Linked DNA regions of Homo sapiens: region 1 is linked to region 2. A link means that fine-mapping ties the variant in region 2 to the expression of a gene that starts in the linked region. Tissue or cell type: whole blood. Region 2 holds a variant in brackets; the other region holds the start of a gene. All regions are shown on one strand. Distances are between the middles of the regions.

Region 1 (2,500 bases), 72 kb before region 2:
CTGGGAGGGACCCAAGCTTAAGTGGACTCGGCAGGTGGGAAGGGTGGTGCCCGCCAGGAGAACTTGACCTTGAGCTGCCCGTGGACAATGCACTCTTGTGTTTGAGGAGGGTGGCGCCAGGCTGGGGACACAGAGGAGACCTTGGGCGCCCGGGGAGGGGAAAGTGCGGCGCTGCGGGTGCCCCGGGCTGCGGGAAGCGCCGCTGGCTTCCCTAGCCCCACTCACTGATGGAGAAGGTGCCGGGCTCTTCCCGGACGACTCTGCAGCGCTCCAGCAGCAGGGCTCCGACGGGCTGGAGGAGACACGGGCGCCGGGACGGGGCAGTGAGCACCCGGCCTCCGAGGGGCCCAGCCTGGGACCCGCCCGCGCGCCCGGGACGCCCCTACCTCGGCCTCGTCTGTCCGAAAGTAGAAGAGGAAATTCACCACCAGCTTCACCAGCCGCCGCTTCAGCACTGCGGGCACAGCGCGCACTCAGGGGCGCAGGCAGCCCCCGCCCGGACCCCGGCCTCCCGTCCCCGGCGCCCCGACCCGGACTCCGGCCTCCGGCACCCCCGCCCAGACCCCGGCCCCGGCCTCCCGCCCCTGGCACTGTCTCGGTCTCCCGGGTCCCGCTCACCGCTGCCCTTCTTGGGGCCCCTCATGCCCAGCTCGGCCGCCATCTCGGCCGGCTGCCGGGACAGAGCCTGCAGCTCCTTCTCGTTGTACCGCATGGCTCCGCGGGGAACGGGAACCCGGGCCGCGCCCTCCCGGCCGCCGTCCCCGCTCAGGCTGGGGCCGGCGCCAAAAATGTCTCAGGGCGCAGACACGGAAGCACCCCCAGGGCTAGTGCGCCTGCGCACCTTGGGCCAGCCATGCCGCCCGCCTCCGCTGCGTGGCGCTGGCGACCCGTGGCTGCTGGCGTGGGCGGGGTACCGGTTGGTAGGAGAGACGGACCGTTGTTACATAACCATTAAACTGAAATAAACCGGACCAAGGTGGAACAGAATCAAGGCACCCCAGCGATGGCTGGCACCCCTTTCTAGAGCGGCCAGGCGCAGGCGGAGGGAGCGATAACGTCGCCCGGAGAGTGTCAGCCGCTCCCTCGCGAAAGTTGGCCCCGTGCGGCCGCAGCGGACCGAGGGTTCGTTGAGAGCGTTGTGCGCACGCGCAGTTTGCCTTCCAGGCCGCGCTTTCAGCCTCTCCCCCTCCAGCCTTTTCCTTCGCGCCTCGGGACCCTCTGACTCACGCCGCTGGGCGGGCCAGGCATGCGCACACCAGAGGGCCCGTCTCATTTGCCCCGGAAGTGCTTTCTTTGCCCGCCGTTCGCCAAACGAAGTCGTGGAGGTGGCGAAACGAGGAGGAGATAACGCGGCCTTGGGCTCTGGTGAGGAGTAGAGGCGGTTGAGGGCGGCGGCCGACGCGGACCGGGGGTTCCCTGGGGGACAGCGGACGTAGGAGAGAGGCGCTTGCGACAGGCCGCGGGCCGAGGGTGGGGCGGCGGCGTCGCTCCCCTCCCTCCTCCCGTGAGCGTCCGGCCTTGTGCATCCTGAGGCCCCGCGCTGGGCGGGCCTGGAGGGTCGGGCCCGCCAGGAACTCTATTTCCAAACTCCTGTTGGGAGGCCGCGCGCGGGGCCTCACGCCTGTAATCTCACTGCTCAGGGAGGCCTTGGCGGGAGGATCGCTTGAGGCCAGGAGTTCGAGACCAGCCTGGACAACACACCGAGACCCCCATCTCTACAAAAAATTTTAAAAAATTAGCCAGGAGTGGTGGTTGTACCTGTAGGCCCAGCTACTCGAGAGGATCGCTTGAGCTCGGAATGTCGAGGCTGCAGTGAGCCATGATCCCACCACTGCACTCCAGCCTGGGCAACATAGCGAGACCCCATCACTGCAAAAAAAAAAAAAAAAAAAATTAGCCGGGCGTGGTTGGTGACGCGCGCCTGTAGTCCCAGCTACTCTGGAGGCTGAAGCGGGAAGATCGCTTGAGTCCAGGAGGTCGAGGCTGCAGTGAGTTGTGATTGTGCCGTTGCACTCCAGCCTGGACAACAGAGCAAGACCCTGTTTGACAAAATAAAAAAGAAACAACCAAGATTCGTTGGGGTCGAATCGGGATCGCGGCTGAAATGGTTTCGGCCGCCTTCCTTGTAGCCGAGAACGCTTCTGTATGCTCATCTATACCTGTTAGTTGACTGGGGCTCTGTGATGTAATTCCTGTGAGCCTCAGTTCCCTTAAAATGGGAGTGACGGCTTCAACATCATGCCAAAGGCGACCAGAACACGTTAGCTGGCCCCATTTTGCAGGTGCACCCCGCTGTGACCGTTGTTCTTGTGTATCCTTGGACGACACCAAACAGCCAGGCGGAGCTCTGGAAAATAGGTTGTTGGCTAGGTTAAGGAGAGAACGGTGTTGCCACGAAAAACTAATTCCTTCTCAATGGTCTAGTCCCAGGTCCCAGAGGCCACTTTTCCTCAATTCTTAAGCTCATTTCCCCTGGTCGTCATCGGTTTTTTGTTTGTTT
Region 2 (2,753 bases):
GTCAGCTCCAGCGATGGAGCAGGCTCCGGTGTGGACCCCAGATACCCTTTGCGTCTTCCAGCTCCGCACCCCCAGGCTGGACCAGACCCGGCTCGGGGGAGACAGGGCAGGAAGGCGCGGGCTGCAGGCTCTATTCGGACGTTCCCCACACCCCAGACCCAACCAGTGCCCCCTTCATCTCCTCCTGGAGAGGAGCGCATCCTCCCAGCGTCCCCAGTGCCCCGGGGAGATGCCCACCCGATTCCCCGCTCCTTGGCGCCCCAGAGGAGGGGCGGGGGGCCCCAGGGTGGGGAGTTCGCCCCCAAAGTTTCCAGGGGGAGCGTCGGGGGCCTGGCAAGGAGCGATGAGCCCGGGAGGGGTGCGCGGGGCAATTTCCCCCGGCTGAGGATGGGGTCGCGGGTTGGGGGCTTTGGGCGGCAGGGTCGCAGGGTGCAGGTGAGGGGTCCCCAGGTCTGCGGGCGCGCCCCACGCCGGGCCCCGGCACGGCCACTCACCTGGGCGGCTCCGCCGCGGACACGGCGCGGGCTGCGGCGCGGGGGCCGCCCGGAGCCGACACGAGCAGCCGCCGCCGCCGCCGCCGCCGCCGCCGCCGCCTCCCGGGCTCCGCCGTGCGCGCCGCCGCCGCGCGCAACCGCCCGCCGGTCTCCTCGGCGCGCCTGGCGGGGGCGCGCGGGGGCTGCGCTGGGCCGCGTGCGCGGCGGCTGGGGCCGCAGGTGTGAGAGGCCACGTGGGCGCAGGTGCGGGGACACTGGGAGCGCGGGTGCAGAACCCCTCCGTGCGCATCCCGGGCGCTTCGTGTCCGAGGACCTCCTGTCCCCACGGCCTGGGTGAGCCTGCGGAGACGGCCGTGCCGTGCAATAAACGCAGGGGCACCCCAAGTGCAGCAGGTTGTTCCGTGTGGAACCTTCTGGAAGCTACCATCGCCTCCTCTGCCCCCCGTCCCCCACCCCTAGTCCAGGCCGCCACCATCTGCACCTGGACATCTGCCACAGCCCAGCCCAGGCCCATTCCTTATGTGGCCCTCAGAGGAAGCCCCTCAGAGGAAGCTTAGCCACTGGGCTCCAGAACCTGCCGTGATTCCCTATTGCCGTGAGGGTCCCGTCTGCACCCCACCTACCCTGGAATTTCTCTTTCTTTCGTTCTTTCTTTCTTTCTTTCTTT[C/T]TTTTTTTTTTTGAGATGGAGTCTTGCTCTGTTGCCCAGGCTGGAGTACAGCGGTGCCATCTTGGCTCACTGCAACCTCCGCCTCCTGGGTTCAAGCGATTCTCCTGCCTCAGCCTCCCAAGTAGCTGGGATTACAGGCACCCGCCACCACGCCCGGCTAATTTTTGTATTTTTATTAGAGACGGATTTTCAGCATGTTGGCCAGGCTGGTCTCAAACCCCTGACCTCGGGTGATCCACCCACCTCGGCCTCCCAAAGTGCTGGGATGACAGGTGTGAGCCACCGCCCGGCTGCCTGCACTGTTTGGTCTGCCGCACCACCTCCTTCCCCCTGGCCTGTCCTCACTCACTCTTTCCCGGGCTCCACCCCCTCAGCCTTCCTCAAACAGGCCAAGTCCCTCCAGTCCCAGGCCTTTGATCTTCGCTGTGCCCAGCTTGGACAGCCTTTCTCTCTGTCCCTCCATCGAGCAGCTTGGAGCCTCTCAGTTTGTCTAATGGGCTTGTTCCCCAATGTGCCTTCCGCCTAGCACACAGCAGCGCACACACCAAGTGCACTGCGAGTGCTCATGGAAAGTTTTTTACCTTTTTTTTTGTCTTTTTTTTTTTTTTTTTTTTTTGAAATGGAGTTTTGCTCTCGTCACCCATTCTGGAGTGCAGTGGTGCAATCTTGGCTCACTGCAACTTCCACCTCCCGGGTTCAGGCGATTCTCCTGTCTCAGTCTCCCAAGTAGCTGGGATTACAGGCGCCCATGACCATGCCTGGCTAATTTTTGTATTTTTAGGGGAGATAGAGTTTCACCATGTTGGCCAGGCTGGTCTCGAACTCCTGACCTCAGGTGATCCACCCGCCTCGGCCTCCCAAAGTGCTGGGATGACAGACGTGAGCTACTATGCCCGGCCCCTCACTGCATCTTCTAAAAGCCACATTTAGCCTCCCTGTCTCACAGATGAGCAAACCAAGGCTGGGAGATGCCATTTGTCCCAAGTGAGGGGTGAGAAGGAGGCCTCGGGAACCTGTGTGTGTAACCTTGCCCTGTCTGCCCCCTTCACCCACTCTGCAGTCCTCCCCACCAGCTGTGTATTCCCAGTGGCTTTGGCGGTGGCCTGGCACTCACGCAGCCACCTGTGACTCAAGCAGGCTCTGTTCCCAGACTGTCGCGTTGGCTGGAGGCCCAGAAACCGCATCCCTGGGAGGCTGCAGGCCAGGCCCCCCACAGGATGCTGTGGGGGGCGGGTATGGTTCAATTCCTGGCCCCAGAGAGGTCCAGAAGGACTTCATGACACCCCATGCTCTCCCCACCAAATGGCCCTGGGCTGCTGTGCTGTGTGACCCCAGTAGGGGAGGTCTCCTTCTCTCTCTGAACGTGTTTCTTTCTCTGTAAAGTGATGCTCCTGATAGCTGGCTCTCAGGGCTCTTGGAGGAAGGTGTTCATTGAGCACCTACTGTATACCAGGCCAAGGGCTGGAGGGAGGAGGAGGAGACGCTTCCAGCCTCAAGGGGGATTTCTTCGGACAGAGGGAGCAGATGCCTGAAATATGAAATCGTCACAAAGCGGCGTGGAAGAGGCAGTAGTGACACCGGGTCCCGGACCG

Evidence for each region. PIP is the estimated chance that this variant, and not a neighbour inherited with it, causes the effect.
Region 1: it holds the start of SF3A2, and the variant in region 2 is fine-mapped to the expression of SF3A2 in whole blood (TOPMed, PIP 0.98).

The regions. Positions count from the first base shown.
Region 1 is chr19:2,235,537-2,238,036 of GRCh38, forward strand. It overlaps SF3A2 (splicing factor 3a subunit 2), which reads left to right and starts at 1,288. Exons shown (of 9, transcript NM_007165.5): 1 at 1,288-1,365. PLEKHJ1 (pleckstrin homology domain containing J1) reads right to left here and starts at 793. Exons shown (of 6, transcript NM_018049.3): 1 at 619-793; 2 at 387-454; 3 at 226-292. The coding sequence starts at 712. MIR6789 (microRNA 6789) reads right to left here and starts at 390; the gene lies at 293-390. RefSeq lists enhancers at 1-208, 817-1,425, 1,004-1,053 and silencers at 234-863, 1,474-1,573.
Region 2 is chr19:2,307,582-2,310,334 of GRCh38, forward strand. LINGO3 (leucine rich repeat and Ig domain containing 3) reads right to left here and starts at 573. Exons shown (of 2, transcript NM_001101391.3): 1 at 495-573. The variant C/T (reference allele first, on the strand shown) is at 1,162.